Linked DNA regions of Homo sapiens: region 1 is linked to region 2. The links come from fine-mapping of genetic effects on gene expression. A gene starts in region 2. The other region holds a variant in brackets. All regions are shown on one strand. Distances are between the middles of the regions. Region 1 overlaps ASCC3 (activating signal cointegrator 1 complex subunit 3). Region 2 holds the start of ASCC3 (activating signal cointegrator 1 complex subunit 3).

Region 1 (4,230 bases), 29 kb before region 2:
ATCACCTGAGGTCAGCAGTTCGAGAACAGCCTGGCCAACATGGTGAAATCCCGTCTTTACTAAAAATACAAAAATTAGCTGGGTGTGGTGCCACACACCTGTAATCCCAGCTACTCGAGAGGCTGAGGCAGGAGGACCGCTTGAACCTAGGAGGCGGAGGTTGCAGTGAGCAGAGATAGCATCGCTGTACTCCAGCCTGGGTGACAGAATTGAGACTCTATCAAAAAAAAAAAAAAAAAAAAAAGAAGGAAACATGACTCCAGTATCATTATTCACAAATCTTCCACAGCTTACTATAGCTTGATCCAAGCTCCTACACTGCCAGAAGCTGACCCCAGCATTTTATTTTCCAGTCTTATTGGCTATTATATATTTCCTGCTCCAGCCAAAAAGAATTTCTTCACCAAAAACCACGTTCTACCCCACTCTATGCCTATTTCTATATCATACTGATTCTTCTTCAAGGCCTCTGATTGTTCAAATCCTACCCATGTTTCAGAATATAGCTCAACTACCTCTTTCAAGATGAGTACAACGTTGAGTACATTGTACAAATACAATGGTATTGATGACAATACCACTGTAGTATTCCTCACTGTACTTAGCCCCAAATAGGTAGCTCCACAAAGATTAGTTGATTTAAACTAGACCCAGGCCTCACTGACACCAGATTAGTATTTTTATACTACATCAAACTGCCTGAGTCACTTTTTACTTTATCTGCTATTCAATCATGTGTAGAAGATTAACAGTTTATAGGTAGGAAAATAAGCAATTTTACAATGTATATTTCCAATTTGTTCAAGTATGAAGTCTACTTTTACTGTTATAATTTACACAATTATCTGACATACAATTATTCTTTTAGTATTTAAGAAAATATATGAAAATCTATAAATAGTGCTTTTAAATTAATTCAATAGCATTTATATACATTTATTTATTCATTCTATACATTTTACTTATAACTTGTAAAACAGGATTTGGATAATTTGGGGATTATGGTACTTCTACAGATAATTTAAAGGGGTTGATAGAACTGATACTAAAGTCTGAGCAAAAATGGAATTCACATTTACAAACATTATCTACCATTGTAAATACACATTTTTTGTAAAGATAGTATTGCTAACACTTTGCATCTTGGGATTTTTTTAAAAATAATAATTTACTAAAAACTTTCACATAATTATCTCACTTTGTCCTAACAAAAGTATCTCCATTTTATAGATGTTAAATGGAAACAGAATTTGAGTAATTAGGGAAAGATCAAACAGCTATTACATCATTAAACAAGATTAACATTAGTCTTCTAACTCCTAAACAAGTTATTTCCCCTATGTCACACTGATTCCCTGTAAATTCCTAGACAGTAGACTTATTTCTAATTCTTGTTTACAAAATAAATTTTAAAAATAAATAGGTCACCTTAAGAAATCAAATAGTGGAAGAACAGCCTTATTATCTAATGTAAAAGTGTAATTAACTTAAATATCCATTATTAGGTTACTGGTTGAATTCTGATATAGCCATATACATTCACTAAATATAGTGCAGCAGATTTATATATCTTGCCTTTAAAAAGTCCATTAATAGTGGGTAAAAAAGCTATAAGCCCATGTTTGAAGAGAAAATAATTGTAGACTCACAGAAACATCAACAAAGATCAACTTTTTTGGAGTGTCAAATTTTTAATAACCATTAACTTAAATCTATAATTTCAAAAATCACAAATACTTAAAAAAATTTAAACCTTGCTGGGTTGTGGTGTTTCATAAATGTTAATACTCTACCCTAATTACTAACTCTCCTGCACAACCTATGTGAAATGGACACGTGTTCATACCACAGAACAGTTTTTCAACAGAGAATCTCTATATGCCTTACGGTTCTGGGAGTTCCACCAGCCAACACTATTTGTTAACATGGATGACTACACAACAGAAATAATGACTACGGCATTCTGAAAACAATGAACTTTTTCAGGGCGCTAAAACATCAGATGGTAACTTCCACTTTCACCATCTTCCTGCAACCACCCCGGCTTGTCTTCCCTAAGGGGCAACCACCCCGGCTTGTCTTCCCTAAGAGGCACCGACATGCTTTCCAGCACACTGTCCGCATGAGATGACGTATGTAGGCGTAAGAGACTGGCTGTTAGCACGCTGCCCAGATGAGAGCCCTGATCAGATTGGAGCAGACGAAGGACCCCA[G/A]GTGCTGGGGCCGCAAAGGATGCACCACAGCTTGCTGGTACAGCCCACTCAGTGTTTTTTGGGTGACTAAAATGTATGAAAAGTTTGTAAAATGTAGACAAAGTATCTGAAGAAAACGATGCAGTCAGTTGTCTAATTAGCCAAAGCTATCCAAGGCCCAACTTACCCTCAACAAAAATGTAATTGGAAGGGAAACACTAAGCGAACCTCTATTAGCCGGCTGAACCACCACCCAATTGGCCACATCAGAAGGGGGAGATGGAACGGCTTTGGACAACGCGTGTGGTACACTTCTAAAGTAGAAAGGTGTTAGTCATGTTCTTGTTTTCTGACACTAAATCCAAAATTGAACATGTTACATTAACTGTGAGAATCCTGTTCCGAAATAGCCTTTTGTTCACTTCCCTTTATATTCTATATGTAATTTAATAATAAAAACGATTAGGTTTATGATCTTTGGTTAAGTTAACATTTGCACCCAATTCTTAAAGCTTTTTCTGTCTGCTTCATATCACTCACTGTGGTCACCTTTCAAAGAGGAATCAGGATTTTAAGTTTAGATTTGGCCACAGATAAATTGATACACTAATCAACTGACGAAAAGTTTATATAAGACTTGATATAAAACTTAAGAACTCCAAACTTTTAAAGAAGGTACTCTAGAAACCTACATACTTGGGTATCTAACTTTGTATCCATAAAACACTGAATAACATAAGCTGTAAACCGGAAAACTGGCTCTACCCACCTGGCACTTCAACTGTAATATATTTAAAAGGATGCACTTAGAAGGTCCCTACAATACTTTTATTAAGAAGAAATACTCACCCTACTTTGCAGTTATATTGAGAGGAAATGGGATGTGAAATGCATAGTAAACTATAAGGCACTTCCCAGAATTAAAAAAAAAAAAGTCAAAAGTGAAAGAGGCTTGCCAAAAATCACCATTAAGTAGCAGAGCATGATCAGAACTCAACTTGGCTGGCTGACTGGTGCGCTTTTATTATAAATAATTTTCAAACTTAAAAAACCTTATATAGAACCTTACCATATAAAATGATATATTTGGTAGATTGTTACTATAAGATTATAAAATAATTTTTTAAAATCAAAGAGTTAAATGGTTACAATTGTCAATCATCCTCAACACACAATCTACGTCTGTTTTCTTTTGATTCAAAATATTAAGAATTAAGTGGTTGTAAGTTGTCACTTTTTTCTGTAGCCTACTTTAATAGTTGAGGAATCCTGGAAAAAGGATGAGTAGAAAATTTTAATTAAAGATTGAATTAAAATATCAATCACTTGCATCCATAATTGATAAATATTCCTTTTTTTTTTTTTTTTTTTGAGACGGAGTCTTGCTCTGTCACCCAGGTTGGAGTGCAGTTTTGAGACGGAGTCTTGCTCTGTCACCCAGACTGGAGTGCAGTGGCACAATCTGGGCTCCCTGCAACCTTCGCCTCCTGGGCTCAAGTGATTCTCCAGTCTCAGCCTCCTGAGTAGCTGGGAGTACAGGCACACGCCACTATGCCTAGCTAATTTTTAAATTTTTTTGTAGAGTCATTTCACAATGTGGCCCAGGCTGGTCTCAAACTCCTGAGTTCGGGTGATCCACCTATCTTGGCCTCCTAAAGGGCTGGGATTACAGGCGTGAGCCACTGTACCCAGCCAATAAGTATTCAATTTAGAAGTTGTCAACAAATGAGTTCCCTGACCTGTTAAATCCTCAGAGATTAGCTGATTTTTTTGAATCTGGCAAGTATGATGATGTTTTCTTTTACAAATATGTAAAATACAGGACCTTACCTACAACATTAGATACAACAAAGTACATTATTTAACAAAATACAAAAATGATTCAACTTGAATATAAAATATACCATGTCCCCATAATTTTTCCCTCTATATATTCCTGTTCATTTCCCATTAGTGTAATTATTAAACAAGTACAATATCTAAACTAGTCTCATGAATCTTGCTAATATTTTCCTCAATTTTACAGAAAAACTCAGAT
Region 2 (4,230 bases):
CTACATAGGCATAATTGATTAAACCCTTTGGCCACTGGTGATCAACTTAATCTTCAGCCCCTCTCTCACCTCCCTAAGCAGTTAGGGGGTGGGGATGAAAGTCCCAACCTTCTAATAATTCCTTGACCTTTCTGGTAACCAGCCCCCATCCTGAAGCTACTAGGAGCAGCCAGCTAGCTAAGACAAAATTCTTAGTCAATTCATTAGCATACAAAAAGGCAAAATGGGGCCCGTAATCCCAGCACTTTGGGAGGCCGATGCAGGAGGACTGCTTGAGCCTAGGGGTTCCAGAGATACACAGGAGATCAATCAGACCAAAGTGAAGACTGGAAAGAAACTGATTTCTACCTCAAAAGAAAAAGCTTTTTATTTATTTATTTTTTTTGAGGTAGAAACTGAGGTAGAACTGTGAACTTTATATTTAAACAAGCTTTGAAAAAGAAAAACTTACTCTTCTGAAATGGCAAACCACTGGTACATATACTACTTTTTGATCAAAGGCAATATCAAATCATGCTGTTAAAGCAAGATCATCTGTTCCCCTTTCAATGCCAATTACATATATACATTGACAATAACTTTTTCTTTTAAAAGCTTTGTTTTGGTTAACTACAGATCCATGGCATGAGAAAGAACCCTAGTCAAGATTCTGTCTTAAAAGGAGGCTGCTGGATTATAGAAAGTTCATGAGCACAGAGACTGTCTCTCTCTTGCTCTCCTAGGCCTAGCCCAGCGTTTGACACATAGGAAGACTTGAATGAATGAATGACAAAAAACTGTTAAGCAGGGATCAAGAAAGCTGAACCATGAAAAATTAATTTCTCATATAAATAGGATTATTTAGCCTAAGCTTAAGAGCATCTTTAAGGATCATTTTTCTCATGCAAGACTATTATAACCATCATTAAAAAAAAGAGACAACATAAACTGGAGCACAATCCATAGTAAAACCAAAAGCTTAATTCTCAACATTTGAGAACTTTGAGAATCAGAAAAAGGATTTCAATCTATGAAACATAAAATCTGGTGATGGAGAAAATGGCTGTCAATCTCACCTAACCTAGGGAAAGAAAGAAAATGTAACCATGAGTTTGAATGCACAAGTGACAACACATCAAACTTTTACCAGCCCCTAGAATTATGCTTCTTTTAAACCAAAGAATAGCAAATACCATTAGCACACTGCATTCCATGAGTAAGTTAATTTATAAGAAACCTATTTGAAATGACTGCCCAGTACTCACAAAACCTCCCTAGCACCCACATACACATTTATTTATTTCAAAATGACATTATAGGCTCCTTGATTGCGAAATTCACCCACAATCCATCACGGTCAGCTACCTATTTACTTTCCAGTGTGTTGGGGGAAAAATATGAGGAAGATTTCTTTCCCCAAATCTACGTGAAGAAAACGAAGTTATCAAGGCTTTGTAACAGAAAAAAAGAAAACAAATTACCCATGCATGGGACAGAAAAACCTCATCTGGTCACGTTGTGGCTTAACACTTGGACAATATGTAGCTTAGGTTAAGTTTTCTATCCCCAACCCCACCTACAAACTCTAGGAATGGGCGGTATTGTTGCGAGACCCCGGACTCGACCTCATGCCACTGAAAAGGATGACAGGTCGGGACTTGCCCCGGAGGCAGGAAGAGAATCTCTGGCGGGTCGCGTAGCCCGCCTCGCCGTCCCCGCCTCCAGCCAGCTCCCCTGGCCGCGGCGACCCTTCTCGTCCTCCCACCTCCACCTCCACCTCCTCACCTCTCGGCCTGGCTCACGCGTTTCCCATCACTCTGTCAGCTCCTGCCACCGCGCCTTCTTCCCTTTCGGTTTTACTTTAACTTCCCACGCCGGGTGAGGAGCTGAGCGCAGGGCCAAAGATGCGAGCGGGCAGCTGTATCGCCGCGCCCCGTCCGCCCTCCAAGCCGCGCTTGCCGGGGTCGCGCCCAGTCACAGGGAACCGCGTGTGAGGACCATCAGTCAGACAGACAGACGCAAAGACGCACAGACCCGGCGAGGAGGGACAGAGTGGAGCTGGCGCCGGCCTACACGTCACCGCCCCGCTGCAGCGCCAACGTCGGCACGTCGACTCGTCGACTCCGGGCCCTCTGCCCCGCCCGCGTGCGCGCGCCGCTCCGCCTCCCGCCTCCAGCCTCTAGTCCGCTGGGTTCGGAGGAGCAGAGGCGGAAGGTCCCGGCGGCGGCGAGGATGCGCCCCAGGGCGGGAGCGGGACGCTCCACTTTACCCTGGCTGCCCGCAACGGGCCAGGCCTGCCGTCTCTACCTCTCTACCTGTGAGTTTTTTCCCTGCATTTACTTCAGTCTGCCGCGTCTTCTCCCCGCCCTTCTCTGTAAGGTAAATATGTGGAGGAAATAATTCCTATTAAAGGTAAAGGAAAGGAGAGCAATTTGAATGAAGAAACAGGTAGTTGCTATCGTCGTTTTCAGCCAAAGCCCTCTGGCTGCTAGAGAGTATACATGGTTCTCTGGTGTCAAGGCCTGTTTTCCATAAGCTTTCTGGATTCTCAGCTTAGTTCCCTCAAAGTGATCTCTGCAAGTCGGCTCTTCGGTCAGAAGACCTCCTCCAAAAACAGAAAGCCCAAAGATTCCCTAACTCGATTGAAAAGATAGGAAGATACGAAGAAAAACTAACCTAAAGAATTGTGTGGTTTATCTGCAAAGAGTTCTAGACTAAAAGCCAACAATGCAAAGATAGTATGAGTTAATATGTTTGTTGTGGCTCTCTTCTGCCATTCCCGCTTCCTCAAGGTAATGTGCCCCGATGCCTGGTAGAACTGTTTTGTAGAGGCAGCCAATAGTGATCCAGTTATTGTCTTTACTGGTCAGACCACCTCTGAAGTGCTGTGTTCAGCATTTGAAGACTTTAATCAAGCTGGCATTATATCAGGGAAGAGCAAAATGATGACGAGAACTCAAAAACAGGGCAAGTGAAGAAGGATTGATTAAACCTTCCAGGACTCACCTAGAAGAGAGAAAACTACTGGACTCTCTCCAAATATGAAATGACCTATCATGTGAAGTTGATTTGTTTCATGTGATGCAAACTTCAGGGAACAGATTTAAGATCCTGAAAAGAAGATGCCCTTGTAGCACGACCCAAAGAATTGCCTACCTTAGCATGTGTGAATACCTCAACCACAGAATTTTGCTTCAAGGAGATTCTGAAGCTCACTTAATAGGGACTTGGTACAGGGGAGCCACACATCAACAGAATAATTAGTTGATGGTTTTGTTAAAGATATTTCCAGTCTTGAGATTACATGTGTCTTTGGTCCTGGACTTCATAGAGTTTACAAGTTAGTTCATGAGACAAGACAAATGCATCACAAAAATAAATAATGCAAGGAGGCCAAGTGATAATGAGAGGTGCTGATAAGTGCTAGGAATTCACATGACAGATTATTCCCATCACAGTTCCAGAGGCTTAAGGGAGAAGAGAGGAACTGAAAATAGACTACCTAGAACTGCCCTATCCATTGGGGTAGCCACCAGTTAAATACGTCTCTTGACATTTGAAATGTGGCTTGTCCAAACTGAGACATGCAATGAGTCCAAAATGTACACCAGATTTCAAAGACTTAGAAAACAAATGTAAAATATTGTAATTCTTATGTCGATTACATGTTGAAATAATATATAATGGATCAAATAAAATATGTTAAAATTAATTTCAACTTTATTTTTACTTTTTATGTGACTTCTAGAAAATTTTTAATTACATAGGTGGCTTGCATCATATTTGTATTACATAGTCCTGGCCTGGAAGGAAATTCAGTTAGCCCTCTGTATCCATGGCTTCTGTATATGTGTCAACCAACTTTGGAACAAAAACAATTGAAAAAAAAAAAAAAAAAGAATGGTAATGTCTGCATTGAACACGCACAGACTCTTTTTTTCTTGTCATTATTTCCTTAACAATATGGATGTAACAACTGTTTACATAGCATTTCCCATTGTATTAGGTATTATAAGTAACCTAGAGATGGTTTAAGGTATATGGGACAATGTGCATAGTTTGTATGCAAATACTATACCATTGTGTGTAAGGACTTGAGCATCCTGGGGTTTTGGTATGTGGGAGTGTCCTGGAACCAATCCCCTGTGGACACTGAGGGATGGTCTTACTTCATTGAACTCTAAGAGCTATCTTTGTCCTCTTTATAGTCCCCAGGGTTTCCCCATTTTTTTTTTCAAGAGATGGGGTCTT

What was found. PIP is the estimated chance that this variant, and not a neighbour inherited with it, causes the effect.
Region 1: its variant is the best candidate, but not a certain one, in a credible set for the expression of ASCC3 in esophagus mucosa (GTEx, PIP 0.82).

What each region holds. Positions count from the first base shown.
Region 1 is chr6:100,849,877-100,854,106 of GRCh38, forward strand. The region is part of intron 3 of ASCC3 (activating signal cointegrator 1 complex subunit 3); the gene reads right to left. Among named protein-coding and RNA genes, the nearest start is that of ASCC3, 29 kb to the right of the region's middle. The variant G/A (reference allele first, on the strand shown) is at 2,214.
Region 2 is chr6:100,879,297-100,883,526 of GRCh38, forward strand. ASCC3 (activating signal cointegrator 1 complex subunit 3) reads right to left here and starts at 2,033. Exons shown (of 42, transcript NM_006828.4): 1 at 1,765-2,033. LOC107984041 (a long non-coding RNA gene) reads left to right here and starts at 2,161. Exons shown (of 8, transcript XR_007059692.1): 1 at 2,161-2,358. RefSeq lists an enhancer at 1,877-1,996.